Homo sapiens: one gene and its partners. The protein of the gene in region 1 interacts with the protein of each later gene in a pairwise test. Each region holds a gene or a part of one and is shown in the gene's direction. Other genes may lie near its edges. The genes, in order: CPLX4, SLC35A4, PLN and PTPN9.

Region 1 (7,957 bases):
TACAGTTATTACCTCACCAGAAAGTGATGTCTGTGAACTGAAATAGACCAGTCATACAGTGTTGGCAAAAGAAATACTTTAGGGGCTAGGCATGGTGGCTCACACCTGTAATCCCAGCACTTTGGGAAGCCAAGGTGGGAGGATCACTTGAGCCCATGAGTTTGAGACCAGCCTGGGCAACATAGCAAGACTTCATCTCTACAAAAAATAAAAAATTAGCCAGGTGTGATGGTGCATGCCTGTAGTCTCAGCTGTTCAGGAGGCAGAGGCAGGAGGATCGCTTGAGCCCAGGAGGTCAAGGCTATAATGAGCCATGGTTACGCACTCCAGCTTGGGTGACAGAGTGAGACCCTGTCACACACACACACACACACACACACACACACACTCACACACAGATTTTGAAACGTTCGGTATAACACTGCTGAATATTTCTGGAAGACAGAAGAATCAGCCCGGGATACATTTCTTAAAATGGCCACTTTGGGAGACAAAGGATTGAGATGCTTTGAGTCTCCACAGAGTCACAAATGGTCTCACAATCTATCAGATAACAATGGGCCAAGGTAGTACTGAAGAGACTCTTTGGTTCTGTAGCTCAATGAAAACCATACTGTCATGATTGGGGAATTTCTTTGCACAGCTGGTATATAGCCTTGAGTTTGTATCTACAAGAATATTAACCAATCCTATAGAAATGAAAACAAACATGCTACTTGGCCTGGCATTTCAATACAGTTCATTAAATATGTATTAAGCATCTATGATGTACATGACACTCTATTAGGTAAAACACAAACCACTAAAATGTCTCCAGTAGGCAGTTATTAGGATTAGGACTACGTGTTTAATTTCCTTTGTGGTTTCCGTAATGGTCCTTCTATTTCCCAAGACTTTTTCCTCTTTTTATATTACCTCTTTTTTCCCAGTTAAAATAGAGGTTGAAAATTAATCCCAGTGAATCTCATCTTTAGATCATTTCTACACTTAGCCAATTAGCCAAGTGTGGTGACACATGCCTTGGCGCTTGGTGACCTTTTTCTTCTTCAGTTCTGCTGACCTTCATGAGCACAGAGGTTTAGCTGCATGGTTACCCCTGAAATGTTGTGTCACCCGCTAAGAGGATATAACAACTGAGACAGGACAACCTAATCACCATGATTTCCTTGGGGAAGGTCAAAAAAGAAATGATACCACTAGCCGATTTTAATTACAGGAGCAAAATTTAGGTATTTGATGTGAAAAGAAAAATCCCAGGTGAAGGACCAAAATGGATTTATGCTGTTTGAATGTGATCTCTTTCTAAAATTTAATTCCACTAATGGGATTATTGCTTCTTTAGCAAATTCTTTGGGTCAGATACCATCAAAATTTTCAAGTTGAATAGGCCACAACGAATCTGTGTTTACAAAGGTGATCCATTAAATCAGAATGAGGCATGATTTTAAAAAACTATGGCAAGTAGTCTTGATCCTGGGAGCTGGCAAAGAAGGCAGCAACCACTATGAGGTGGATTTGTAAGCACTAAGATGCTACTTCTGTTATTGGTGGAGGGTGTCCAGGTTCTTGGCATTTTGAACAAGGAATTAGACAAAACGCACAAACAAAGCCAGGAAAGAATGAAGCAACAAAAGCAGAGATTTATGGAAAACAAAAGTAGACTCCACAGACTGGAAGCGGCCCCACCATAGGGGCTCAAGAGCCCCTTTGCAGAATTTTCTGGGGTTTAAATACCCTCTAGAGGTTTCCCATTGGTTACTTGGTGCACACCCTATGTAAATGAAGTAGTGGCCTGCAATCAGTCTGATTGGTTGCGGAAAGCAAACAATCAGAGACTGAAGTGAAGTTACAAAGGTTACACCCTATGCAAGTATCTGATTGGTTGTGGAAAGCAACCAATTAGAGGCTGAAGTGAAGTTACAAAGTTACACTCCTATCCAAATGTCTGATTGGCTGCAGAAAGCAGCCAATCAGAGATACTTTGAATTTTCCATCTGCCACGTAGAAAAAGTTGGTGGGGGTGGGGGTGGGGGTCGGGGTGGGGGTGGGGGGCCGGGAGTTGCAAAGGGAGTAAGGAAGTAGCTTCCAGTCCTTTTGTTACTTAGGTGTGGAAAGTTGGGGTTTTCCTTTTAATTTAGTTCTAGGAAGTCAGCATGAATTGGCCTTAGGTTCCCTGCCCCCAGACCCTATTCTCCTGTCTCCCTTTTGCCTGAAGATAACTCTCCAAGTGCCTCCATCATCCGATGTAGTACCTTGATTACTTCCATTGAAAGCGATTTGCTCAAAAATAAGCCATTAGGCCTAGTGGCAATCATTCATTCATTGTTTTCCCCCAAGATTCTTATTGATCACTTACTATGTGCTGAGCATGATTCTCAGAGATGGGGATGCAAAGGTGAACAAAATTGCACTGGTCTCTCTTATGGAGCTTACATTCCAATGGAGTAGATGGAAAGGAAACAACTAAATCAAGGAAAATATACTTTCAGGTAGAGTGCAGTACTATGAAGAAAAATAGAATAGGATAGAGGATTAAAAGGTGGGGTAGTGGAGGCAGGGTATCTTAGGATGGTCAGGGAAGTCCCTCTAAGAAGGTGAATGAGAACAGAAACCTGAATTAAGCAAGGGTGAGCCACCTAGAGATGTGGAAGAGCAATACAGGCCAGGAGGTTCCACAAGGACATAGGTGGGAGCAATCTTGGTTTAAGGGCCAACAAGGACATGAATGTGATTAGAATGAGCAAAGGGAGTGTGGCTGAAGAGGCTGGCAGCTAGGCAGTGGGCAATCTTGCAGCAAGGAGTGGGGATTCTATGCAAGGACAGTAGGGAGCCATGGGATGGGGACACCTAGAGGTCCCATTCATGAATCCAGGGCATTCATTTCCCCTTTCTGAAGGAACGGAAGATTCTACCACCATTTCTACAAGATTCTACAGCCAGGCTTGGTGGCTCACACTTATAATCCCACCACTTTGAGAAACTGAGGCAGGCAGATCACTTGAGGTCAGGAGTTCAAGACCAGCCTGGCCAATATGGCAAAACCCTGTCTCTACCAAAAATACAAAAGCTTAGCCGGGCATGGTGGCGCATGCCTGTAATCCTAGGTACTCGGGAGACTAAGGCAGGAGACTCGCTTGAACCCAGGAGGCGGAGGTTGCAGAGAGCTGAGATCCTGCCACTGCACTACAGCCTGGGCAACACAGTGAGGCTGTCTCCAAAAAAAAAGATCCTACACACCAGCTAGTAGTTCCTGGATGTCCAAGGGCAAAGGTCATTGTAATAAATCAAGGAGTAAAAAGTTTTTTAAGTCGTGACCTCATTCTCAATGGAATTACCTGTTGAGGAAATAATAAGATATTTGATTTCATAAAGCACTCTCAGGAGACCTTCCACGGCGACCCTGCTGAAGCTACCACCGAAGAGTCCCCATAATGCATGACACCCCCTCTTCCTAACCCCCTCCACACAAACATACATTCAGAAAAGGACGGGACAGGGAGAAACTCCTTTACACATGGGTGCTGGAGTTTAGAATTGACACCCTCACCATTAATATTTCCTAATTCCTCATACAATGGAATTTTTAGAATAGATTTTATAATAAATCTAAATAATTACTTATAATAAAATGTAGACCGAACAGACAGAAACACAAGGCTGTGGCTTTTATTTTATGGTTTGAAAAGTTCTATGAGACAACATTAATTAGTAACATTCCTCAGTGGACTGCAATGTAGTTTATTATAAATGGTAATTTAGAGATAATGGTATGAACGTGTTAAGTTCCAAGCAACCCATCTAAAAGAGAAAGTGGAACTCAATATTGATGGGCATTCTCCTCGAAGCCCTGAGTACAGCTTATATTTCACCCTAAATTATCTTTTTTAGCCTTTCATATTGAGACCATTTAAGCAGCATTTTAAAATAGATTACTAAAAGGGAAAGCAGACGATAAAATATATAAAGCAAGCATTTTAGGCAAGAATCCAGATTATGTAATTCTATATGATCAGAGAGATAATCACCTGGTTTCTGAGAGGACTCATGCCTTCAGATAAAATAACAATGGATTACATCTCTTCCTTCCCACCCCACCCTCTTTGGCAGGCTTTAATTAGAAAGATACTAGTGTAGATTGAAGTCTTAGCCATACTCAACTCTTCCCTTGACCTGAAGAAAACCACAGCCATAGAGAATCTGGTGGGATACAAAACATTGTCAGTTTCATCCAAGTACACCAGTGAGCTTAAATAGAGCACCCAGGAGGTGCACTCTTTATGCAAGAGAAAAAAGGTGACCCCTTACATATTGATGATTTGACTCACATAATGGTCTTACCTTCTGGATCAGAGCCTTGAAGTGTCAAGCACATCATTTCCATATAGACAAGTAATATTTCCATGCAGGAGAAGGCTAAGATAATCTTCCAGATGTAAACCAAGGACCTGCTGTCTGGGTCTTTGCATTTGTCAGTTGTGTATTTATGTGCGGGACACAGTAACTATTGAAGCAAACCGAATTCAAGCAAACTAAAAAGCAAATCCTTGCATAGTACTTAAAGTCCAATGAGATAAAATGATGGATCGAAAGGATTATTTTTGCTTAATGAAGCATTCTGGGTTTTGAGTCTCATTGGACTCAGTTTTTCAACAGGATGTTTTGCTCAAGGGCTGGAATTTGGAAATTCCACAACAGCTATATAATCAGTCAGCTCTGATTAATTTAATTGAAACAGGACTCTTGATGAAGCCCTGCTGTGCTTATAATTAAAAATTTAGAAAGGGGTAGATGATGTGGGGATTTCTTTTTCCTGTGAAATTAGCTGAGTGTATTAATTCAGAAGGTAGGCAGTTGCCTCTGATTGTATGCTTCGGTAATCTGAACCATCTGCCTCTATATACTAAGGAGTTCACCACTTTAATCCAGCTTACGGCCGACAAACCACTCTTCTCTATCAGTATGCCCTTGAATAGATGAGGTTGTGCAAAGTCCTTTGCTCTTAAATGTATTGCTGTCATTGAGAATATTTGGAGGTTTTCTCTTGGGTTTGTTTGGATTTTTTTTTTCAGCTTTTGTCTGAATTTTGGTTTTATTTTTCTGGGGCAGAGAAAATGGCTTTCCTTATGAAAAGTATGATAAGTAACCAGGTAAAGAATTTAGGATTTGGTGGTGGGTCTGAAGAAAATAAAGAAGAAGGAGGTGCATCTGATCCTGCAGCAGCTCAAGGGATGACTAGAGAGGAGTATGAGGAGTATCAAAAGCAAATGATTGAGGAGAAGTGAGTACATGCTATTTCATTTCCCTTAAAAAGCAAAGGAAATTCATTCTGGCCATACCTTCTTCAGTTCTCCAGTTTATTTCTCTTTGCTTTTTAAGATGCCTTTCCTTTTGCCGTTTACCTCTAACCCAAGGAAAGGTTGTTCTTCTAAAGTAAACGGTTCCCTAACATCAGCAGCTACTATGTTCTATGTTCTACATGTATGAATGGAAATGAACAATAATAAATGAATCTATATGTTGTTCTTAAAGCAGCTTAACACTTTCTGGTCTAGGCATGTTTTGATTGACCTCAATTTAATTATTTAGATGAAAAGTGGTAGGTTTAACTATCTTTACATTCTTTCTAAACTTCACCCTCTTAGCACGTAGAAAGTCTTCAAATTGTAAGAATTCAGACCTTATACCTAGAAAAGGGCCTAAAATAACATAGAGGGCAGCTTCTTTGATCTTGCATGTGAGAAAAAAAAAAAAAACCCAGGAAGCATAACATGACAATTATGTCATAAGACTTGGCTTATCAAAGACTATGAATGGATTTGTGGACTGTTTAATATGGAAATTCTAAACATACAGAAAAGTAGAATAGTAGGACAAATACCCACATATACCTATGACATAAAATCAACAGCTTACAGTTTGCTACATTTGCTTAAAGATTAAAAAGATAGATGGTAGATAATAGCTTTTAAAGTAAATTACAGATGTCATGTACTTCACCCCCAAATACTTCAGCCACCTTCCTCCAAAAAATAAAGGCATTTTCTTGGCTATATAAAATATAACAAAAATAAAATATAAAATATAAGCAACATTTAATTGGGTATTATAGAATGTGAATATCACCAACAACTTTTCACCACTTGAAGACTGATTCTGAAATAAATGTAATCTCTGTGTAATTTTTAAATGTTTAAGGTAGAATTAAGATTCTTTTAATAATCAGTTAAGAAATGAAACATCAATCTAGAGGTTAAATGTTTATCATATGTTTCAAAAGAAAAGTATTTCTTTTTTGCCACCAGGACTCTTTTGCTAATGATCAATTACATAATAGTTGCCTAAATCCTATCGCTAAGATGATTATAGGTGAAAAGGTTAATGACCTGGAGGAAACAAAGAAAGTACAAAGACTACGTTTAGTGGAAACCTTGTCTATTGTATTTTTCTGAAAGAAATCATGGCTTATAGACTACCTAGAATACATTATGCTTGGTTCTGCAGTAACTTAAAGTTGGTTTTTAAAAAACAGTCAATGCAACTAGCAAAAATGATGGTGCTAAGACTTGGGCAAAAGAAGCAGCATTCCTTGAATATTGGCTGATTTTACCTATGGCATGCAAAAGAACAAAAAGCTTAAAAGCAAAATAAGTACTGTGTAATGAAGGATAGAAGACAAAAATCAGCATCAAACATTCTCAGATCAAGTAGGCTAATGAAAACAGAAATGTAGACTACAGTTGTGAGCATGCAAAATATCACCTAATATGTTCAAGCAGCAGATCCGATTGCAGATAAGGCATCTATTTGATTAACTAATGTCCTAGTTTTCCTTAATTTTATATCTGGACAGATCAAAGCTCAAAATGGCCAAATCATACAGTCAATCAGCAGACTGAGTTGTCAGCTACTCAGCTTTTTGCATATGTGTGTGAGAATATTATATATTTATGTAGTCACTCAATGTAAGAAATAGTGTCAGGACAATGGAGCATTTGGCTTCCCTATGATAAAGAGGGATGACTTTCAGTCCATTGTTTGAGTTTTCAAGAATTTCACCACCTAGAATGCAATATGTAGTAGGCATTAAAAATAATTCATCACAAGATAAACGCAGAGAGAGCTACAAACAGTTTAGTATATATAATAATTAAAATCAATGTTAGCAAATGAAAGCCTCCTAAACCCATCCTCATCATTGTAGGAAGTGGGGAGACTATATGAATTATAAATAAAAAACTATTTAGCAATGCACTCTATTTAATAATGCACATTCATTTTTATTTTCTTTCTGTGTTCAATGTGTGTGTGTGTGTGTGCGCACGCACCACTGGTAACATTAGTACTGAAAGAGGTCTAAACATAAATAGACTATCTGGAAAGGAAATAAAACAATAGTCTGTTTCTCCCGCCATTTTCTCAATTATATTAAAATGCTTCTTTGCCATAGTTATGCTTCAACAGTTTCTACAATATCATTTGTAACTTGACTCTGACCTTTGTTTTATTCAGTAATTGTTTGGACCCCTAGTATGAGCATAGCATTGTGAGGAATGTACTGAAATGGAAGAGATGGGTTTTCTTCTGCAGGAATTTACACTTTACTTGGTGGGGGGAGACTAGCTAGCTGCATGTGACTATAAACAGAGCAACCAGCTTTTCTGCGTGATTTGTAGACTGGCTCTGGAGGACTGGAATGTAACTCTGCGTGGCATTAGTATCAACAAATCGATCAATGGGGTTTATAGTTATTTGATTTTCAACAAAAGCGCCAAAATAATCAGACCAGGAACGGAAAGTCTTTTCAACAAATGGTGCTAAACAACTGAAAAACATTGAACTTTGACCCCTACTTAACACTATACACAAAAATTAATTTGTCATGCATCATACACGTAAACATAAAAGCCAAAATTATAAAGCTTTTAGAAAAAAAAGTAGGAGAATATCTTTGCAACTT
Region 2 (7,954 bases), on another chromosome or scaffold:
CCAGGTTTGTGATCTCTGAAGAGGCTGCCGACCCGGAGCCCAAGTAAACAGTGGAGAGCAGCTGCAGGGCAATCCCACCAACCCATTCCCACCCATGACTCACCATACAGGCAGCCTGCACAGCTTCAGAGAGTCCCCCTGCATGGGGCTGGCACCAGAAGGCTGCGCACTGGAAGCTCTGACGGCCCAGGTCAGCGATGAGGCCAAAGGTGTGTGGGTCGCGGCCAACACCAATAAATGTCACAAGGCGCACAGGGCACTGCCACAATGGCTCCTCCTCTGTACTGGCCTCTGCCTGCCCACACCAGGCCTAGTCACTAGAGGGCCAAGCACGGGCCAGACCCACTTAACTTTTCCGACAGCAAGCAGTGACCCCTCAGCATCCCTGCTCACCCCTCCAAAGCCCCCAACTTCACCCTCTTCTGGTACCTGAATGGGGTGTGCAGTCATGAGAGAGTCAGACACACTGAGCATGGTGGGGACCCAGGCATTCCGGTCCCCCCTGGCGGTGAGGGTACCAATGGCCTCGTTCAGCACATCCATGCCTGGGGGAACATACCCAGCGTGTCTCCCAGTGTAAAAGAAAGAGTCTGCAGGGAGTGTCTAGCCCCCTCTCACTGATTTGGGATTCAGAGATAGGGAATAGGATAGCTGGGGCAAGCCTTAGAATTCTGATTTGGGAAGGCTGGTAGACCCCAGGCCATAACAAGGCCACGGGAGGACTCTTGAGAAATGATAACAGGCCTCACCTCACTCACCTTCCCCTTGCCTCACACAGCCCACCACATGCAGCCCCCTCAGTCCTCACCCATGGCCTTGGTGACTGGCAGTGTCCCCATATACAGTGCCTCGTACTTCTGAGCAGCTTGGCTTACCGCATCCAGCAGCTCCACTGAAATATACACACCAAGTTGGCCTGGAAGCTCTTTCAATTACCCTTTTCCCCACCCTTCTCAATGGGCCAGGACTCAGGTCAGAGCTGGTGCTGGTAGAAGAAATGGCTCATAGATGCTCCTCCAACTAGTGGCTTGGGATCCCTGAGACCAGACATCTCAGAAATTTATCCACAGAAGTATTAAATAACCAGAAATCGCCCCCCCACAAAGCAGCACCAAAGCACCCCAATGCAGCAATGCAGGTCTCCCCTCCCCATACCTTGCCGTGGCAGGTCTTCAGGAGAGATGGGGTCTGGGGAGCAGCAAGAGGCATCACCACTGACCTCTACTCGCTCTGACAAGATCTAAAACACAATGAAGCCAGCATGACCCACAGGGAGAGAGGGGAATTAGGGTAAAAGGGCCAATACCACCCCAACTACCTTGGAAGCTTCAGACCCAACCCCTTACCCACATTCCCTGCCCCACCCCTGACACTTACCTGGGCACAAAGCCCATGTAGGGCACTGGCAATGGCCTTGGCAGGGACATCACAGCAAAACACATGGCACTTGAGCATACAGCTATCTTTGTCACTTGCCACAAAAGCGAAGTCCCTAGCAGGGGCAGAGATGGGGCTGGGGTAGAAGCTGGTTAGAGGCAGGAGCCTGCAGGAGGCTGGAAAGTCAGGCTAGGGATATAGCAGGGATGGAGTAGGGACATCAGGGATGGGGCTCAGGATACCTGGTTTTCACTCACCTGTCACTGTTCCGGAAGCATGTGGGAGCACAGAAGGGAATCAGCCCAGCCTCTCGGACTCTCCCCAAACTGTCCCTGCTGAGCTGGGCCCACCCTCCCCAACCAGGGCTGGACCAGGCAGGGGAAGCAGTCCTGGGTCCACATCAGAGGATCTGTGTCCAGGGGTTCAAGTACTGGGGATCAGCATCAGTGGGGATCACAGCCTGCAGCCGGGAGGGAGAAGTAGCTCTTGCTTGGGGGATGTAGGCATCCTCACCGGCCCTTGGAGCTCCCCACGCCCCACACACGGATGTGCACCAGAGGCTGGCAGTGGATCAGACTGTGGTCCAGGGGATTCACTAGGCTCATGGCATCCTTCTTCAGGATCATCAGCATGTTCTGGCCCTGCCAAGGACAGAGGTCAGCCCAGAGCTCAGATAAAGGTCATTGCCATGAGAAATAGGAAATTCAGGGACAGCTACCTCTGCTGGGCCCTGGGCCCAAACCATTAAAGGGCCCAGCCAACTCACCTCACCCCAGGCACCATCTGGAGGCTGGCTCCGGCTGCGGGTCTGGGCCAGCTGCTGGATACAGTTATTGACTGCAATACTGCTCTTCCCCGGTGCCAGGTCCTCTTCAGGTACCTCTACCCAGCCCAGAGAGCGGACTGCAAAGCACTGACAGGTTGGGGGAAGGGACAGGAATTAATAAGGATGGAGTAGGGTGGCAGGTGCCACAATACATACTCCCTGTCTTCACCCTTGATCACCTCTGTTCAGTCCAATCCCACCCTTGTCTTTCCCTTGGGACCTCCCAATGCCCTCAGGCCCAAGTCACTACCTTAGCCCCTGGCTCCATGCTCTGGATGTAGGATTCCCCACCATACCAGGACAGAGAGTTACTGAAACAGAGCAGAGCTGTTAAGAGGACCACATTTCCTACAGTAGGGACACTGGTGAGGCCTAGACAACTTGATAAGCACAGGATGAGGGGCAAGACCCAGAATATAGCACCAGAAATATAAAACCAGAGCAGGGTAGAGCCCAGGACATATTAACGTAACATAAAGTGTGACTCAGAATTTGAGGGAAAATTCAGGACATAGGACCCAGACACAGGACATAGAATAAAAGTCACAAGGCTAGGTGCAGTGGTGGCTCACGCCTGTAATCCCAACACTTTGGGAGGCTGAGACGGGTGGATCATGAGGTCAGGATATCGAGACCATCCTGGCCAACATGGTGAAACCCCATATCTACTAAAAATACAAACATTAGCTGGGCATGGTGGCATGTGCCTGTAGTTTCAGCTACTCAGGAGGCTGAGGCAGGAGAATGACTTGAACCTGGGAGGCGGAGGTTGCAGTGAGCCAAGATCGTGCCACTGCACTCCAGCCTGGATGACAGAGTGAGACTCCATCTCAAAAAATAAAAAATAAAAGTCACAAAATAGAACAGGGTCCAATATGTGGACCAGAACCCCAAAGTGGGACAAGAGACCCTAGAACAGAGGACTTAATGGCCAAGGTCTAGAACATGATAGGTTAGGACCAAGAATATGAAAAACATGTAGCTACAAACAAGAGCTTAGAACAAGGGATAAAACTCAAAATACTGACAGTTAAGAACCTGGGACAGAGCCAAGAACGTAACAGAACCCAAAACATGTGACAGAATCCAGAACCTGGGCTGGAAAGCAGACCATGGGTCCAGCTGCATTTTTGAACACCATGGAACCCCAAGCCTTTCATTTTGCCTGGGCCACCCGTTACCTCCGGTCCAGTGAACTCTCCAGGCTGGAGAAGGATCTCCCTTTGGGGGGCCGCAGTCCCCAGATCCCCTCCGTTCCCTGTAGAGTGGGAGTTAGTCAGTTTAACAGCAGACCTAGGTCCACACATGGGCTCAGACCTCCTCCTCACACTCTACCTACCGTGCCTGGGTCCTCTGCATCTCCTAGTTCCCAGGTTGGGCGCTGCCACTGGGTGCTACCGCTGGGTACATGCCAGTAGTAAGTACCTGCAGCATCGTGGATCTTCCTCCAGCCAGGAGGCAGGCCAGCCTCCACCTCCAGACTGTGGTCCCCCCACAAGTCATCTACAGGAACACCGGATTAGAGAGGAGGGAGCATATGATTTGTGAGTTCAGAATAACATGCTGTCATAATCCCCTCTCCATCCCCAAAATGGGTCAGTTCTTAGGCTGAAGATCCAGGCTCCTCAATCTTGAAGACATCACATGTAAAGACCGGGTTCATTCGCCCCCTGGTCCCTACACAGAGAGGTATCCCCCACCGTCTTTGAGCCCCAGAGTAGCCTTTCGGATTCCCTCGTCCTCCCTCAGCTCCTGGTCTTCCCACCGGGCCCCTCCGTGCACACCATCGCAGTTGACCAGAATGATGGCCAGCATGTAATCCTTGCCCAGCATAACCCCGGCTGCTCCCCGCCAGCCTCTGCCGGCCCGCACTCTCAGCCCAGCGCGACCTCTGGAGCTACTGCGCCTGCAAGCCCAGCCTCTCTGCGCCGCAGGCTGCGGGGCCAGCTGGCGCCGCACAAATACGGGGCGGGACACGGGGCGGGACACGGGCCGGTCCCGGGGGAGGGCCTGAGCCGCACAGCCCGCCCAGGGGTGGTGCGTGTAAACGGGCGTCTGGATCCCCGAATGGTTGCGTGTTTCCGTGTGTGGGTCCGGGGGAGGCCCACGAACGCCAGCGAAACCGCTGACACCACCGCCCAACTATGAACTCATCAGGCGCCTGAAGACCGACACGCCGAACATGCGCCGCGCGCACTCGCGCACGAGTGAGATCATCGCGCCCCGGTCGTGAGTGCGCTCACACGCAGCCTGAGACTCGACGGGAGGGGGTCACGTGGAAGTATCTGAGAGAGGCGTACTTGGCCACTAGGAAAGCACCTCCCCCTTTCCAAAAATGCTCCGGAAGTGCCTTCGCCCTCCGTAAAGATGGCCGGGGCAGTCGGCACGAGGGAGGCGGGGATGCGCCTGCGCAACAAGTTCGGCGGGGAAGATGGCGGATGACAAGGTGAGTGGCCGTGGGGGTGATCTGCAGCCGGGCGTGGTCTTCACTCTCCTTGACCTTTTTAGTTCCGGGGAGAAGCGACTCTGGAGCGGCTCAGGAGTGAGGATGTCCCTTGTTTCTTCTGCGGCTCCTGTCAACTGCCTCAACAGTGTGGAGTGGTGTGGGGAGAGCATTCGGCGAGGCGGGAGGAGCCGTGGATCCCCCAGATGTCCCCTCCTGGGAACCATCACGAACCCGTTACTAGCACAGACTCAAAAACATTCACCCTTAAACACTCCTCACTTTACCCCATTCCCTAGCTCCCGAAATTTTCTTCCCAGTGACACGATGTTTCCAATCACACGGACACTCACACCACCCTCATTCAAACACTCCTTTGCATACATTCTGAATTTCATACTTATATGCGATCAAAATCACTCAGTCCATTTACTTACACACTTGCCGACAGTCTTTTTTGTCATTCTCAGTCACATCCAGTCACTCACATTCAGTTTGGGATGTCCTTGGGAAGAAAGAGGTAAAGCCCATCCAGGAACCAAGACAATAAAATTGTCCAGGAAACTGCCTCGGTCCATTACTCACCATTGGTCTAGAAGCTCAGCATTACCCACACATTTACTAAATGTCAGGCACTAGAACATAGTAGCCAAGACAGACTGGTCACGACTTTCAAGGAGCTCATAATGGAGTCAGTAGTGGTTTCCTGATGGACCTAATTAAAGGTCCCTAGCTGTCCCTCCTGCCTTTCCTACATACTGCTTGCTATATAAAATTCTTGTCAAGGTTGATGTAAGTTACTGGTTCAGATCCCATCTGTCAGTCCCTTCCTGGCCCTCATTTGAATTCTGTGCTTTTCAATGCTTGTCTTTCTTTGCCACTGCCATCTCAGGAAGCTTTTATAGGAAAAGGTCTTTCTGGCTCACCCCATCCCCTCCCAATTCCCAGCTTCTGATGGAATTGAGCAAGGGGTGGGGCTTAGTCAGACTGCTGGAGCCAGCCTCTCGCTTGTCCTAGGATTCTCTGCCTAAGCTTAAGGACCTGGCATTTCTCAAGAACCAGCTGGAAAGCCTGCAGCGGCGTGTAGAAGACGAAGTCAACAGTGGAGTGGGCCAGGTAAGGACTGTCCCACCCCACCCCTGCCTTAGGCTTTATTGCCCAACATGCTCTTGAGAGTGTTAAATGGATGGTAGAGATTTCTTCAGCAAGTGATTATTGAGGGCCTATTCTCAGTCACCCTAAGGACAATTTTTCTGAATGGCACATGAACTAATATCTTAAGTAGTGGTTAAGTAGGTGAAGAGGGGAGGAAAGAACATTCCAGGCAGAACAGCATATGTAAAGGCCTTGTGGTAGGAAGTAGCATTATAAACATGAGGGGTGAAAGGAGGTCCATTTGGCTACAGTAGTTGGGGAGCATGCTAGGAAATGAGGCTGGAGAAACCGGCAGGGCTAGGGGCATCTCTGACCTTGTGTGGCGGTGGAGTTCTATGGTTGGAGCTTTCTGACCCCAGGGTTCTGAGATTGTGTGATCAGAACTGCTTGGTTCTTTTTCTGGCCCCAGAACCTTGGGAAAAATCTGGAGAAAATACCACGGTTGTCCAGGGTGAGGAGGAGCTGGTGGTGGAATGCTCTAATCCCAGCTTGAGTAGCCCCTGGACAGTCAGGAAGGAGCCTAGCTAAGTTTCCTTCTGCATTTTTCTCTGCAGGATGGCTCGCTGTTGTCCTCCCCGTTCCTCAAGGGATTCCTGGCTGGCTATGTGGTGGCCAAACTGAGGGCATCAGCAGTATTGGGCTTTGCTGTGGGCACCTGCACTGGCATCTATGCGGCTCAGGCATATGCTGTGCCCAACGTGGAGAAGACATTAAGGGACTATTTGCAGTTGCTACGCAAGGGGCCCGACTAGCTCTAGGTGCCATGGAAGAGGCAGGATGAGCAGCTCAGCCTTCAGGTGGAGACACTTTATCTGGATTCCCCAGCTGTCATCCATTTGCTATCTCCAACTTTCCTGCCACCTTCATCCTTGCCTCCCTTCCTGCAGATTGTGGACAGTAGTTCCTCAGCCTGCACCCTGGATTCCTTCTTCCCCTTCCTAGCTCCATGGGACTCGCCCCAAGACTGTGGCTTCAAGGACCACCAGCCCCTTACTCTTCAAGCCCTGACTGTGGAGTTGGTAGATGCCTCTGATCCTCAGTATTCTCTCTGGCAATGTTCCACGGCTTCTCCTTCCTGGGAGCTGGCTCCATAACTTGATTTTCCCCAAACGTGTTGCAATCCCTGCTGCCCCTTAGCCACCCAGGGTCTTGTGTGGGTATGAGTGTAGAGGATGGGGGTATGCCAGGCCTGGGCCGTCCCAGGCAGGCCCGCTGGACCCTGATGCTACTCCTATCCACTGCCATGTACGGTGCCCATGCCCCATTGCTGGCACTGTGCCATGTGGACGGCCGAGTGCCCTTCCGGCCCTCCTCAGCCGTGCTGCTGACTGAGCTGACCAAGCTACTGTTATGCGCCTTCTCCCTTCTGGTAGGCTGGCAAGCATGGCCCCAGGGGCCCCCACCCTGGCGCCAGGCTGCTCCCTTCGCACTATCAGCCCTGCTCTATGGCGCTAACAACAACCTGGTGATCTATCTTCAGCGTTACATGGACCCCAGCACCTACCAGGTGCTGAGTAATCTCAAGATTGGAAGCACAGCTGTGCTCTACTGCCTCTGCCTCCGGCACCGCCTCTCTGTGCGTCAGGGGTTAGCGCTGCTGCTGCTGATGGCTGCGGGAGCCTGCTATGCAGCAGGGGGCCTTCAAGTTCCCGGGAACACCCTTCCCAGTCCCCCTCCAGCAGCTGCTGCCAGCCCCATGCCCCTGCATATCACTCCGCTAGGCCTGCTGCTCCTCATTCTGTACTGCCTCATCTCAGGCTTGTCGTCAGTGTACACAGAGCTGCTCATGAAGCGACAGCGGCTGCCCCTGGCACTTCAGAACCTCTTCCTCTACACTTTTGGTGTGCTTCTGAATCTAGGTCTGCATGCTGGCGGCGGCTCTGGCCCAGGCCTCCTGGAAGGTTTCTCAGGATGGGCAGCACTCGTGGTGCTGAGCCAGGCACTAAATGGACTGCTCATGTCTGCTGTCATGAAGCATGGCAGCAGCATCACACGCCTCTTTGTGGTGTCCTGCTCGCTGGTGGTCAACGCCGTGCTCTCAGCAGTCCTGCTACGGCTGCAGCTCACAGCCGCCTTCTTCCTGGCCACATTGCTCATTGGCCTGGCCATGCGCCTGTACTATGGCAGCCGCTAGTCCCTGACAACTTCCACCC
Region 3 (7,741 bases), on another chromosome or scaffold:
CAAGCAAAACAGGGCTTCTCCCCACCTACTTCTGAATAATGAAGGAGTTCTATAAGAACAAGACAGTAAGGAAAATAATTCGGATAGAAGAAATAACATATAATGGCAGAGTTGTCAAATCGTTATGGTAGGCATACATGGCAATGGACAGATCAGGAACGATGTTTTATGTAATTCTGTAAAGAGTGGGTTTTTCATCTCGAAAGAGAAATCAATAAAAAGTTCTCAGCATGTGAATGACAATCAAATGTGCACTTGGATATCAGAGTAAAAACTGAGTAGGAAAGAGTCACAACGAAGGGTAGAAAAACTAGTTAATAAACGTCTATGAAAGTTAAGAGGAGAGTTGGTCAGGCTATGAGAACAAAGACATATTTCACAATCTGCATTTGGTTTCTAAGTGAATGGGGAGTCTGGCAGAAGACAGAAAAGGTATGAGCCTCCAATTTCAATTTTGTATCAAAATCAGTGATAGTGCCACCACAAAGTTTGCGAATGCGAGGAGCTCAAAGGGCTGAGATATCAACCACAAAGATAAGAAATTTAATATGTCTGGAGAAATACTACAATCATTAAATTGAAATAGAACCTTCTTAACAATGTAACAGCATCATGATCGGGACCCTATAGAATTTTGAAGCAAGTATTTGGAGACCTAAGGGTTGGTTTTTGTTGTTAAATTTGTTTTGTGATGTATGTGTTTCCCTTTGTTATTTTTGGCTTTGGTTCTGTCCGTTTCCTTTGTACAAAACATGCACTTCTCTTAGAAGTCATACTGCTTATTATTACACGTGCTCATTTGACTCTCAATTGGGAATTTCTTTTTCTCCTGGTGTTATCTTGCACTAGTGGTTACCTTCTAAATGTTAAATTTTCATTTCCATATTATTTGTATACTGATAAACCATAATTTCCTTGAAGCCACGTAGCATGCTATAGCATTTCTATCACTTAGAATGTTTAATAACTTTCCAAAATTTATGTAGACCTATATGAGTCCTTTTCTTAATCCATCTGGCCTCTCTTAATGTCAATGCTCTTCTCCACCCCTCATCAAGATGAGGAAAGAGAATTTGCCCAGAATTCAGATATTTATGAAAAAATAAAATGTTTGGGTCTCCAGGTTATCTGGCAAATCAAGTGAAAAGTGAACCTACCTCCCCCAAATGACCCCTAAGCTTTATAGGTTACTTTATCACTGGGTTATATCAACAGCCCCCCAACTCCAGTTGATGAGTAAATCTTATTTTCTTTTCCCTATTGCCCTATGGAGAGAATTTCCATCCTCTCAATCTCAGACCACTAATTCTTATTCGCAGTTTTGCTTAGATGTTTTTTGAACCAGTCCTTCCCTACGTAGCTTTAAAATTTAAGGCAGTAATTATCAAACCCTCAAGTACCCTCAAGAGATAGGTAAAATCTTCTTCCTGGGTGTCTAGGAGATCTAATCTAAAAAAAGCTCCTTATCTTTGATGTATTGTGAACATTACAAAAATTGATTCAAAGCTTGCATTTTACTGTATCTCTGTCTAAATATTAAAATGCTTTAATTTAGTCATCACTTATATTAACTTCTGGTCAAAAATTTCCAAAAACCGATTCTATTTTGAAGCTTCTTCGCCCTCCGGATACACCACTACAGACTGGAGTTTAAATGCTCAATGTAAAAGATTACTACATACATCACAGTGCCCTTCACAAAACGTTAGTAATATAGCTGGGCGCGGTGGCTCACGCCTGTAATCCCAGCACTTTGGGAGGCCGAGGTGGGCAGATCACGAGGTCAGGAGTTTGAGACCAGCCTGGGCAATATGGTGAAACCCCATCTCTACTAAAAATACAAAAGTTAGCTGGGCGTGGTGGCACACGCCTGTAGTCTCAGCTACTTGGGAGGCTGAGGCAGGAGAATCGCTTGAACCCGAGAGGGAGAGGTTGCAGTGAGCTGAGATCGCACCATTCACTCGGGGCTGAGTAACAGAGTGAGACTCCGCACCCCCTTCCAAAAAAAATTAGTAATACTTTTGAGGAACACATTTAAAATGCTACAAAACTATATAAAAACAAAAGTAAAGACATGAACTCATGATTCAGTTGAAACTGAATACTAAATTTCATTTAGAGCTTAGTAAAAATAAATTTGTAATTATTTTCCCATCCAAGTTCAAAGACACTTTACCCTTAAGAATCCACCTTCTAAAGGAAAAAAGAAAATAAGTGCTAACACTAAATGAACACTGTTGCAGGATCTCTGATAATCACTATGTACACTTCATGTCATTAAACCATCACAAATACTATTCCACAGATTAGGCTGCTTAGGAAAGTTATTTGTATAAAGCCATGTGACCAAAAATACATTCAAACTATAGTGTAACTCCAAATGAAGACTGTGACAAAGCACCTCAAAAAAATTTTCTAGCCTCTAGCTGAGGAATCATTGAGGAACACTCTACTGATAACACTATAACTCATTAATACTCCTATTAAACAACTTTCTGTTTGGGCAATTAAAAACAATGTTCAGTTAAAACTAAAATCTAATACTTCCTAGAGTTCCACATGAGATCATCACCATCATCGTCATCTTCACTAGCTAACCCAAAGGAACAAGGTAAACACAAAAACTCCCCACTCTTGTACCAATCTAAAAAGTAAATTTTTGAATCCATTTTCCAACTGTGTCACACACAGTTGTTAGTATCCTTCTAAGGTGTGTATATGCCTATGTATACTTTTTAAGTAAACTTATAAACATGTGGTAACTAGGGCATATTTTATTCTGTCTACGGCAGCTTCTTGGTTTATCCAACTAAGTATTACTAATTCTATTTTCTTAGAATGAGAAGTTCTCAGAACAATGATCTATCACCTAAATTTCAAATGAATGTGTAACTGGTAGACAAACTTAAAGCAGACTTTCTAAAACTATTAACAGTGCTCAAGAATGCATCTATTTACATCTTAAAAATTTCTCAGTTACTATATGCTACTCTAATGAAAGCTATATTCAAATTATAATTTTTTCCCACAGCATGCCAACAGATTAGGAATTATAAACAGACAGATCTGGATTTGAATCCTGTCTATTCTTTAGCAGCTGGTTATCTCTGACAAATTACTGTAAACCTCGTTAGGCTTCTCGGTTTTGTATTATCAATCATCATTGGTAACTGATAGTACTGAGAGATCCTCATTATGTAAGGATTGAAAGAAAAATGGTTGTAGCACTGAGAAAAGTATCAAACATTATTCTGCAATTTCCTTAACTTGGGTTTTACTTTTAAGTTGTAAATTTTCCCTTGGCAATGTTCACAGGATATCTTTGCTAAAATATTATTTTTCAGTTAGTTTTAAGCTGACTCTTTAAATATCAAATGATTTGCTCTAGAGATGGATTTTCTTTCTTTGGAAGAAGCCAAGATCATTTCCATTTAAGGGCATGTAAGCAGCTGCTGCTACACATTTTAGTTACCCATAAGAAAGTGAAGTGGGCTAAGTTCACTCTGTCATAAGCATTTAAAAAATTAAAAATTACAAGTACCTCCTCTAAAATTAAAGAAGAGATTTAAGAATTAATATTTTCGAGTGTGGTGACTTAAGTAAATCTAACATCTAAGACAACAAATTAGATAAACAGAGAAGAGGAGAATGATGCCCGGCTTTACAAAAAAATTATTTCCCCAGTTCTACTGTAAGATAAACTGTTCTAGGAAGTTCAAAATATCATCTCACTTACTAGCATCTCATTTTTATAGTAATTTTCAGGAAAGCAACTGCTAGATTAAATGAGGCACATCCTTTCAAAAACATTACAAAACTTAAATTTCAACACATCAAACCTATAAAGCCTCATTAACTGAGATGTAACTGATTTGGAATCTGTAATTATTTCTTTTTTGCCATAAAGTTGCCCTTAATACTGCATCAGTTTATTAAAAATTTGGTAAGATTGTGTAATAATTTAATGCAATTGTTTTTAAAAAATCTTAAATACTTAAAGTAGCATATTGCTATTTTGGGGGTGTTGTATGTATCAGTTTAAATATAAGTATTACTATTCACAAATATATTGTTAAACTGCTAATTGAAGAAAACACAAATGAATTAAATACATTTATTAGTTCTTTAACTGTAAGATAAAAATAATTTTTTAAAACAAAAAGCAATTAGCCTGATTTTCTCATACTCCTTCTCCCATACACACAAGAACAAGAACAAAATAAGAAAACAGGTATAAAATTTTATTGTGTAAAAATATTTCACTTTCACTAAAAGCTAACATTATGAAGACACGTATTAAAGCAACAGCAGCAAGAATTCAATGAAAGTTGTTTTGCTTATACCTGTGTTTATTTTTCTCATAATTAAAATTCCTGCAGTAACTATTTTAGCTCTTCAACATCTTCACCATTAATATTCAATTATCTCTAAGCCTGAAGATGCATGAATCTTTAACAAAAGCTTTCCACCACCTCAAGTTTACTTATTTTTTTCATTTATCTACCATATACTGTTTTAAATTAAAAACAAAAGATGAAGCACAAAGTGTTAATGACTTTTCCATACCTAAAGTAAGAAGTTCTAAAGTTTGGTTGTGATAAGACTGAGACTGTGGCTAACCAATCGAAACTTCAGAATTCCTATGTGACATCATAAGACCTCCCTAGAACACTTTTTCTCCTCCACCTACTGCAACTGTTCCCATAAACTGGGTGACAGAGTCAGAAAACTCCCCAGCTAAACACCCGTAAGACTTCATACAACACAATACTCTATACTGTGATGATCACAGCTGCCAAGGTAAGAAACAGATTTCGCTGACTTTGGTAATTCTTACTTTCTATAATTCTTAATTCCTATAATTTCTATAATCTGAACTTTTAAAATGAGTTAATTTTATGAATATCAGTTCAATCTTAGGCAATAAAATGACATGACAAAGTGCTTAAATTTATAAATGCTTATCCATTTAGTGACAGGAAAAATGAGACAACTTTGAAATGAAAAAGGTCATATTCATCTTTGATCCTGGTTACTGGTTTGTCATTTAAATTTATCTTTCACTTTTATTTTGCTTTTCAAATGTGAATTTCTGCCAATTAAAAAATCTTCCAATTATGTTACCATATTTGGTAGTAGTGGTTAATTTCTCCATGCAAAAACAATGACTTAATTTTGTTATTTATTGCTCTGCTGAGAAACAGTGCAGAACTGAGCTATTTACATCTGAACTAATATGAATAGTCATTTGACTACAACATGCACATTATCAGCATGCCTATTCCAATATTATCATAATTTCATACAGTGAATAATGAAATGGAGTTTCAGAATATATAATACAAGCTACTTTTAAAGTGCCCTTGAGGATGTTTCCCCTCTAAAGTCCAGTCAACTTTTAACAAACATTTCTAAAAAAATTCCATGCTATTAATAAATTGAGTTACTGATATTAAATTCAATATTGTATCATAAAGAAGTTTAGAAATTTTAAAACAATGTTCACAAACACAAAAAATCTGACGTTAGAGAATAATTTGATACTTTAAAAAGTTATTTTGACACACGAATATTCTTAACTATCTTATTTTCACACAAATTTGATTAAATGGATTTCTGCCTATTAATGCCTATAGTTTTGTCAAGTTATTATCCTCCAGTGGTACTCCATTTCCTCTCTCGGATTTAGAAAGAAAGGAAAAAATAAAATAAATGCCAGGAATGGAGATGCCACAATCAATTTTATGACTTCTGTTTGAATTCTACCCTATTCTTTATGTTACAATCCTCAATTTAGTAAATGAAACGTTTCCTCATTCTTAGATCTCTGTCAGGGCATACAGAAAATTACATATATTTTATTTATTTTGATTTTCATATTTCATATATATGTTAAAATAAAATTTATCTCTAAAATTCTCAATTCCTATGACAAATGTTAATTCTATTGCTCACTACAAATAAGAACTTTGTAACTCTGTAAGCAGCTTTCCTTAAGACATAAAAAAACATAATTTTTGTCTACCACTGAGGTATCCTAATTGTGTCTCCATATCTCTATACTCATATTTTTCCTTTGATAGTACATAAAAGTCATTCAGTGTAGGTGTCTTATGTTATTTGTGCATTTTTATTCAAATATCTATCAAATTACATTCTCACACTTCAAATTGGGTGTTCACGAGTTATTTTATTGTATCAGAATTTTGCTATATCACATATTACTCTAAAAAGTACACATACTTCTGGATAGAGCAGAAATTATATTAAACTTACCCTTAGCTCACTAGTATGTCTCAGTTAACAGAAATTACAGTTACAGAGACTGCTAAAATTTCAAATATAATGTGGTAGTACCATACATTGTGTCCCAACTAGTTCATCTATACCTTAAGGTGCAAGTTAAGTATTATCTTTGTTTATGAAGACATGTGGTTTCAAAGTAAGTGCTAAAAAAAGTGTTAGATGAAATCAAATGGAAAAAATATGAAAGATGTTTAAATTAAGAAGCATTAAGTTTTAAAAACGCATGAAAGAGCCAGAGTACTTGCTTTACTAAAAGGCGTGACAGCACTATCATTTCCTAAAACTCAAATATCAAATCCATTTTATTTGTATTTTAGTAGGCATAAAGGAAAATGATCACATTTGGGTATATAATCATATCTTTAATTAGTGAGATTAAGAAATAATAAAATATTGCATAAATACAATAGTTTCAGAAAATTTTAATGTATTTTAATGTTTTAATGTACTCATTACACATGTACACTAAATTATGTAATATATTAAATTTTTAATTAAAAAACCTAAAGTCTAGTTACCTCTCCAAATTAGACAATATATTACCAATCCCAGAAATGAGGAGGGCCAATGAACACTTCTTTTTTATTCTTAAAGAGCAATTTCCTAATATACTCGTGTACACAAATATTTCATTTGGTCCTCTTAATTATATATTTGATACTGCATCCCTATTCTACAATTTAGGAAAGATGCAAAAAGGTGAACTGCTCAAGATCACAGAACTAAGAAAACAGGGAAACCTTGGCAGAAGTTTAGGTTTTGTCACTAAGCCACATGCACATCCTCTATATACTGATCAGCATGGCTTAAAGTAAACCATGACACTGACAAACAAAATTTGAAAGCCCCCAAATACTGTAAATGATATTCTAAAAGGCAAAAGGCAAATTCAGAGAATACAAACTTCTATTTTAATTAAAAGCCATTCCACTCCATTTAAATTCAATTTATGCATAGCATTACATTCTTAATAGTCTAAATTATATTCTACTGATCATTTTCAAAACCAGAAATATACGAAAATTACAGATGCCCTTAGTTATTAAGCAATACCTCCTGGAAGGCAAAATTCAAACTAACTGCACAGACTTTAAAAAAAATAACACACCCCAATCAATCAAAGTTTCCTTTTATTTGTTTCATTGCTAAAATACTCATGCCTTCAATTCATCTGATACCTAAAATCCAAGTTAACATCTCCTCAAAACTTTCACAAAAATCACATTTCGATACTTTATTCTAGGTTCCCTAGAATCAAGTAGTCTCTTTGTACAATTTCAAAGTTCTTACCCAGAGTAATTCTGAAGCATGTGTTACCAAATAAACACATGAAAATGAAGCCTGGATGTACAGCATACTCATAGTCAACTGAGGACCTCTAGTGCCTTTGAAAAGGTACTCCATCTTTAGTTTTCAACCCCCAACCCCCGCACAA
Region 4 (7,929 bases), on another chromosome or scaffold:
TGAGGATCAGTGGGCAAAACAAATGTGAAGTGTAAATAGTGAGTTGAGAGACTCCATCCTCTCCTGTCTCCAATCAATGGTTTGTACTACTCAGGTCCTGCTGTTTCTTACTCCAGTTTAGTCCTAGAACCATTTGCTTGCCTAGGGAGAAAAAGCATACTTGGCCCGGCACGGTGGCTGACGCCCAACACTTTGGAAGGGGGAGGCAGGCAGATCACTTGAGCCCAGGAGTTCAAGCCTGAGGCTGGGAGTGATAGCTCACAACTATAATCCTAGAGCTTTGGGAGGCCAAGGTGGGTGGATCACTTGAGGTCAGGAATTCGAGACCAGCCTGGCCAACATGGTGAAAACCCGTCTCTACTAAAAAAAACACAAAAATTATATGGGCATGGTAGTGCATGCCTGTAATCCCAGCTACTCTGAAGGCTGAGGCAGGAGAATCACTTGAACCCGGGAGGCAGAGGTGGCAGTGAGCCCAGATCGTGCCATTACACTCCAGCCTGGGTGACACAGCGAGAGACCCTGTCTCAAAAAAAAAAAAAAAAAAAAAACGGGCAAGATAGTGGTTACCCTTCAGCAGAGTAGTAACTGACTGTGGGGTGGGGGATGGGCAAAAGGCGAGGCTTTGGCAAGTTCAGAATATTCTATTTGTTGATCTGTGCATTGGGCACAGACACGAGTGTGTTCAGTTTATGAAAATTCATCTGGCCGGGTGCAGTGGCTTACGCCTGTAATCCTAGCACTTTGGGACGCTGAGGTGGGTGGATTGCTTTGAGCTCAGGAGTTTGAGACCAGCCTGGGCAATGTGGCAAAACCCCATCTCTACAAAAAATATAAAAATGGGCCAGGCCTGGTGGCACGCACCTATAGTCCCAGCTATTTGGGAGGCTGAGGCTGGAGGATCGCTTGAGCCAGGAAGTAGAGGTTGCAGTGAGCCAGGATTGTGCTGTTGCACTCTATCCTGGGCAACAGAGTGAGACCCTGTCTCAAAAAATAAAATAAAAAAATTCATCAAGCAGTACACTTATATTTGTACTTTTTCTGTATATTACACTTCAATAAAAAGAAAGCAGGCTGGATGCAGTAGTTCACGCCTGTAATACCAGCACTTTGGGAGGCTGAGGTGGGCGGATTGCGTGAGGTCAGGAGTTCGAGACCAGCCTGGCTAACATGGTGAAACCCTGTCTCTACTAAAAATACAAAAATTAGCAGGGTGTGCTGGTGGACGCCTGTAATCTCACCTACTCAGGAGGCTGAGGCAGGAGAATTGCTTGAACCCAGGAGGTGGAGGTCACAGTGAGCCGAGATCACGCCATTGCACTCCAGCCTGGGAAACAGAGCAAGACCTCCACTCAAAAAAAAAAAAAAAAAAAAAAAAAAAAAAAAGTATTCCAGACTGGTTACAATACTGAAACTAAAGGAGTGATGAAGTCAACCTCCAGTCAGCTGTATTGATGCAAAGGAGAAAATATCCTAGCTGAGATAAAGATTCAAATACCAAGGATATCGTCTCTGATTCTTACCAAGGGCAGCCTGAAGTTCCTATTGCATTAATGCAGAAATTAGTTGAGGTCAGGGATTGTTTTTAAAATCCTAGAAGGAGCCGGGCATGGTGGCTCATGCCTGTAATGCCAACACTTTGGCAGGCTGAGGCGGGTGGATTGCCTGAGGTCAGGAGTTTGAGACCAGCCTGGCCAACACAGTGAAACCCCATCTCTACTAAAAATACGAAAAATTAGCTAGGCATGGTGGCAGACACCTGTAATCCCAGCTACTAGGGAGGCTGAGGCAGGAGAATTGCTTGAACCTGGGAAGTGGAGGTTGCAGTGAGCTGAGATCGTGCCATTGCACTCCAGCCTGGGCAACAAGAGCGAAACTCCATCTCAAACAAAAACAAAAATCCTAGAAGGCTGGGCACGGTGGCTCACACCTGTAATCCCAGCACTTTGGGAGGCTGAGGCAGGAAGATCGCCTGAGCCCAGTGTAACTGCCCAATGGGATCACCTTGCCTGCTGCTTACACAGCGGATATATCAAGACAGGGGAATTGCAATGGCAAAAGAGTAATTCACACAGAGCCGTCTGTGCAGGAGAGTGGAGTTTTATTATTATTATTATTATTATTATTTTGATTCAGCGTCTCGCTGTTTCGCCAGGCTGGAGTGCAGTGATGCGATCTTGGCTCACTGCAACCTCCACCTCCCGGGTTCAAGCGCTTCTCCTGCCTCAGACTCCCGAGTAGCTGGGACGACAGGTACGCGCCACCATGCCCAGCTAATTTTTGTATTTTTACTAGAGACGGGGTTTCACCATGTTGGCCAGGATGGTCTCGATCTCTTAACCTCATGATCCGCCTGCCTCAGCCTCCCAAAGTGCTGGGATTACAGGCGTGAGTCACCATGCCCGGCCTGGAGCTTTATTATTACTGAAATCAGTCTCCCTGGAGCATTAAGGGATCAGAGTTTTTAAAGATAATTTGGTGGGTAGGGGCTTAGGAAGTGGAGAGTGCTGATTGGTCAGGTTTGAGATTGGATCATAGGGAGTTGAAATGAGTTTTTCTTGCTGTCTTCTGTTCCTGGTTGGGATGGCAGACCTATTTGGGCCAGATTACCAGTCTGGATGGTATCAGCTGATGCACTGGGTGCAGGGTCTGCAAAATATCTCAAGCACTGATCTTAGGTTTTACAATAGTGATGTTATCCCCAGGAGCAGTTTGGGGAGGTTTAGACTCTTGGAGCCCATGGCTGCATGACCCCTAAATTGTAATTTCTAATCTTGTAGCTTAATCTGTTAGTCCTGCAAAGGCAGACTGGACCCCAGGGAAGAAGGGGGTCTTTTCGGGAAAGGGCTATTATCAATTTTGTTTCAGAGTCAAACCATGAACTGAATTCCTTCCCAAAGTTAGTTCGGCCTATGCCCAGGAATGAACAAGGACAGCTTAAGGGTTAGAAACAAGATAGAGTCAGTTAGGTCTGATTTCTTTCACTGTCATAAAATCATCAGTTATAATTTTGCAAAGGCAGTTTACCAGGAGTTTGAGACCAGCCTGGGCAACATAGTAAGACCCCTATCTCTACCAAAAAAAAAAAAAAAAAAATTAGCCAGGTGCAGTGGTGTGCACCTGTAGTCCCACCTACTCAGGAGGCTGAGGCGGGAGGATTGCTTGAGCCCAGGACTTTGAAGCTGCAGTGAGCTGTGATCACGCCACTGCACTCCAGCCTGGGCAACAAAGTGAGACCCTGTGTTAAAACAACAACAACAACAACAACAACTTTGGGAGGCCGAGGTGGGCGGATCACGAGGTCAGGAGATTGAGACCATCCTGGCTAACATGGTGAAAGCCCGTCTCTACTAAAAATACAAAAAAATAAAAAAAATAAAAATAAAAATTAGCCGGGCGCGGTGGCGGGTGCCTGTAGTCCCAGCTACTTGGGAGCCTGAGGCAGGAGAATGGCGTGAACCTGGGAGGGGGAGCTTGCAGTGAGCCGAGATCGCGCCACTGCACTCCAGCCTGGGTGACAGAGTGAGACTCCGTCTCAAAAAAAGAAAAACAAAAAAGCCAGGCGCGCGGTGGCTCACGCCTGCCTGTAATCCCAGCACTTTGGAAGACCGAGGCGGGCGGATCACAAGGTCAGGAGTTCGAGACCAGCCTGACCAACATGGTGAAACCCCGTCTCTACTAAAAATACAAAAATTAGCCGGGCGTGGTGGCTCGCACCTGTAATCCCAGCTACCCAGGAGGCTGAGGCAGGAGAATCGCTTGACCCCGGGAGGTGGAGGTTGCAGTGAGCCGAGATCGCGCCACTGCACTCCAGCCTGGGCGACACAGAGACTCCGTCTCAAAAAAAAAAATAAAAAAAAAATCATAGGAGCATCACAACTCACAGCACCTTCCTGTTGTCTGAAGGCCCCTCCTTTGGGTCCCTCAGGACTGGCTCCAGGGCTTCAGCCTTGGAACTAGTTGTGGACTTTGGGTCCCTTTGGAATATTTATCTTTGGCTTGGAATAATGCAACAACGTACCAGACCCAGCCTTGCCTTCTCTATGCCCCATTCCTCCCCAAATGACTCCAAGACTGTACCCCTAATCCTGAACCCTTTGCTGCACTTGCCCTAGTGAAAATCAAAGGTCTGCAAAGGCCGCGTCATTCCTGAATGATGTTCGGAGTCTGATGTCGTTTCTATGGGGGATTAAAATTAGCGACACTGGAGATGAATTACAGGGTGCAGCCAGTAAGGAGGGAGAGAGAGGGAGGCAGGTGCGATTCCTTCCACCTAAGCATCCTGGCCTGGCAGGCAACCTTTCCAGGGTCTTTCAGGCTGCAAGCGACAAATAGTTGAGGATTGTGGGTTTCTCACGCGTAGGTGGCAGCGGCAAGTTAACCCCAGGAGAGGTGCCAGTCAGCAGATAATTTGCAAACGAACGTATTCTCCTCCTCCTCCGAGGATCTGAGCCTCACGAAATACTCTTTTCTTCCTTTTTCTCCCTCCCGCAGTCGAGTTGCCTTCCGTCCAGCTAGGGTCCCCTCCCCGCCCGGGTCCCCTCCCCCTCCCGGTCCCCTCCCCCGCCCGGGCTCCTCTCTGTCTCCCCCTCCCGGACTGCGTCCTCGCTCCGCCGGGCCCTCCTCGCCGCCAGCTTGTGAATGAGACGCTCAGTTTCTCAATGGAGCCGCGGGGGGCTCGGGCGGCCGCGGGGCGGCCGCAGCGTTGGCCGTGAGTCAGGAGGGGGGCGCGTTTCCCTCGCTCCCTCTCCACTCCCTCCCTTTCGCTGCGGCCGCCCGCGAGGAGCCTGGCTGAGGCAGCCGCGCAGGTCGCAGGGCCAGCGTCCGCGAGGACGGCCCGGCTGGGCGGCCCCGAGCTCTGTGGCGCTGTGGAGGAGCGGGAGCGCGGCCGAGGAAGCGGGGCGCCGAGGGGGTCGGCGGCCTTCGGGAAATTTCCGCCGACCCTTCGCTCCCGGCTCTAAAAGTTCCTGATTTCCTATTTCCTTTTAAATCCCGAGTGGCTGTTAGCTCTTCGCCTGCACTTTTTCTTCCCCAGGAGATAAGGGGGAGTGTGAGGAACGGAGCGAATAATATAAAAAAGGATTTCCTCCCGGAAGAGAGCGGCAGTTCGGAGAGATTTTTCTTAAGGAAGCAGAAGCGGCGTTTGCGGCCGCTGCAGGCGCCGGGCCCTGCCGGCCACACTATGCGCGAGCCGGCCCCGGGCTGCTGAGGCGCGGGGACGCGGAAGCGGAGGCCGAGCGCGCCGGGCTCCCGCGCTCGCGAGCGAGTTTTGTCCGCCCGGCGGCGGTGGCGGGGGGATGGAGCCCGCGACCGCGCCCCGGCCCGACATGGCGCCGGAGCTGACCCCGGAGGAGGAGCAGGTAAGCGGGCCCGAGGCCGCCGCGTTGGGTGTGTCCGGGCCCCCGAGGCCTACGCCGGCCTCTGCCTCCCGAGTGCCGGCTCTTTGCAGCCACGGGGCCGCAGCCCCCCGCTCCCGTGCCCGGCTCGCGGGCCTCCCTCACCGGCGACCGCGCCCCAGGCCGCCACCCCCTCGTCGGGGGACCCACGGGACCCTACTCCCGTTCCCGCCGCTTCTTTCGCCGAGGCTTACCAGCCTCAGACGGTGCCCTCCGCACCCCACCCCCTATTCCAGGGGCAAAGTTCCTTGGATCCAGGGGCCTTCTTCCCGAGATTTGCAGAACCGCTGCTTGCCCCCGGCCCTTCCACTCCCTTGTAAATGTTTTCCGTGAGGGTTTGTGGCTTTTGAAGGGCAGGAAAAGCCCCAGTTTGGGGGGTGCTTCCTGTGGGGATTATCTCCCTTCCCGAGGAGAGGGCTGAGAGTATTGGATGCATAGATGCCCTAGATTTTCAGAGGAGCCTCTTAGGTTTCTCAGGCCCACTTGGGCAGGTTATGGAAGATCCAGCCCTTCTCGTGTTCCTAAAGTCCCTGGCCTTGACCCCCCTATTCAGCTATCCCAGACGGGGCGCATCTCCTCACCCGCGCTTCCCTACCCTCGTCTCATCTGACTGTCTCCATCTTTCTGAAGCTTACATTGAGCTCTATTGTTCCTTAAAAGCCTATGACCTTTAGTTTTCAGAAGGAAGTGGTTTGCTGTCTCATTTTGGGGGCCCTTGTAACTTTCCCTCCCGCACATTCCAGCTGCGGAGACAGGGACCACTCCTGAGGAAGATGGGAAGGTCTGCTAGCTTAGACTGGGAACCCTACGGGCTTTTCGCTGTCTCTTCCTTGGCACTGCCCATACCCCGCCATAGCTATGCTCGATTATAGTCATAGTCTGATTCCATGTTATAAATAAAAAAAATAAAAATAAACATGAAAAAAGAAAAAGGCAAACCATGCTGGCAACCCATTTCAAGCTCTACAGCTCTTGTTTCCAAGGACCACATTTGCTAGCACAGCCTCTAGTGTGAAGACAGTCCAGTTTTACAAACTATTATTGGCTAATGGGCTTGTTGACCTGATTTTTTAAAGTCCTTGTCTTTTCTCCTTATTTGTGGAGATGACATTTTTCTATTTGGCCTCAGGCCACGGTTTTGTCTTTTGACACCTGGTGATGAAATCTGTATGGGAAAAAAATTTAAAAAGAATTCTGCTTTGTACAAGCAGTGGTAATGAATGTCCTGGTAACTGCAGTTGGATGTTAATAAAATGCTAGTCAGACCCTAGTGCAAGCAGGTGGCCAAGGAGCCCATTCTGCCAGAATTGGGAAGTACTTCAGTACTAAGATAGGATGTGTTGGCTGATTTTAAAGGGACAAAATCTCTTTCTTTCATCCTTTTCCTTGGGTCAGTCAGATTTCTGTTTTTAAGACTTAAAGCCATCAGTATTCTATGCAAATAGCATCCGTTGCAAATTTGAAAACTAAAACCAGGAAAAGTAAATATTAAAGTATTGATAGTATTGACATGGTATTGGCTTTACTTTGTACATAGTGCATACACATATATACAGATGTGTTTAACTAGTAAAAACCTTATCTTTTACCCTGAATTGAATGTGATGGGCATTAACAAGGACTAGGATGGAAACGGCAAAATGTTTATTAAAGTCAAGAGATTGTGTGTGTGTGTGTTTTTAAAATCTTATCTCTTTTTTCTACAAAATATTATTTTTTTACAAGCATTTCAAAATATTGAAACAAAAGCAGTATAGTTCTAATTATGGTAATGCCTAATGTTACCATATTTTAGTTTAATATCACATAAGAGTACTCTCTTTTTTTTTGAGATGGAGTTTTGATTTTTTGTTTGTTTGTTTGTTTTTTTGAGACAGAGCCTCGCCCTGTCATCTAGGCTGGAGTGCAGTGGCCTGATCTTGGCTCACTGCAACCTCTGCCTCCAGGGTTCAAACGATTCTCCTGCCTCAGCCTCCCGAGCAGCTGGGATTACAGGCGCCTGCCACCATGCCCAGCTAATTTTTGTATTTTTAGTAGACGCGGGGTTTCACCATGTTGGCCAGGCTGGTCTTGAACTCCTGACCTCATGATCTGCCCGCCTCGTCCTCCAAAAGTGCTGGGATTACAGTCGTGAGTTACTGCGCCTGGCCGGAGTTTGGGTTTTGTTGCCCAGACTGGAGTACAATGGCGTGATCTCGGCTCACTGCAACCTCCATCTGCCGGGTTCAAGCGATTCTCCTGCCTCAGCCTCCTGAGTATCTGGGATTACAGGTACCCACCATGCCCAGCTAATTTTTGTATTTTTAGTAGAGATGGGGTTTCACCGTGTTGGCCAGGCTAGTCTCATCATACTCCTGGCCTCAGGTGATCCACCCGCCTTGGCCTCCCAAAGTGTTGGGATCACAGGTGTGAGCCACTGCACACAGCCAGAAGTACCCTTTTGTTTTTTAACTGAGTCTTGCTCTGTTGCCAGGCTGAAGTGTAGCGTTGTGATCTCGGCTCACTGCAAACTCTGCCTCCCTGATTCAAGCGA

Evidence for each region.
Region 2: the proteins of CPLX4 (region 1) and SLC35A4 interact in binary tests that used the Homo sapiens proteins (3 or more experiments, as listed by UniProt).
Region 3: the proteins of CPLX4 (region 1) and PLN interact in binary tests that used the Homo sapiens proteins (3 or more experiments, as listed by UniProt).
Region 4: the proteins of CPLX4 (region 1) and PTPN9 interact in binary tests that used the Homo sapiens proteins (3 or more experiments, as listed by UniProt).

Annotation. Positions count from the first base shown.
Region 1 is NC_000018.10:59,315,617-59,323,573, reverse strand, and holds the start of CPLX4 (complexin-4), read left to right. Parts: upstream 1-4,924; 5' UTR 4,925-5,111; coding exon 5,112-5,278; intron 5,279-7,957.
Region 2 is NC_000005.10:140,560,210-140,568,163, forward strand, and holds the start of SLC35A4 (probable UDP-sugar transporter protein SLC35A4), read left to right. Parts: upstream 1-4,618; 5' UTR 4,619-4,634; coding exon of another isoform or gene 4,635-4,649; intron 4,650-5,663; coding exon of another isoform or gene 5,664-5,762; intron 5,763-6,355; coding exon of another isoform or gene 6,356-6,553; 5' UTR 6,554-6,960; coding exon 6,961-7,935; 3' UTR 7,936-7,954. Other genes in the region: APBB3 (amyloid-beta A4 precursor protein-binding family B member 3), read right to left, coding at 104-295, 430-545, 809-892, 1,156-1,240, 1,378-1,513, 1,635-1,640, 1,891-2,018, 2,144-2,290 and 4 more; SLC35A4 upstream microprotein, read left to right, coding at 4,635-4,649, 5,664-5,762, 6,356-6,553. UniProt on the Homo sapiens protein: Mediates the transport of CDP-ribitol. Does not exhibit CMP-sialic acid, UDP-galactose and UDP-N-acetylglucosamine transport activity.
Region 3 is NC_000006.12:118,543,593-118,551,333, forward strand, and holds the start of PLN (phospholamban), read left to right. Parts: upstream 1-4,703; 5' UTR 4,704-4,800; intron 4,801-7,741. UniProt on the Homo sapiens protein: Reversibly inhibits the activity of ATP2A2/SERCA2 in cardiac sarcoplasmic reticulum by decreasing the apparent affinity of the ATPase for Ca(2+).
Region 4 is NC_000015.10:75,576,145-75,584,073, reverse strand, and holds the start of PTPN9 (tyrosine-protein phosphatase non-receptor type 9), read left to right. Parts: upstream 1-4,758; 5' UTR 4,759-5,297; coding exon 5,298-5,360; intron 5,361-7,929. UniProt on the Homo sapiens protein: Protein-tyrosine phosphatase that could participate in the transfer of hydrophobic ligands or in functions of the Golgi apparatus.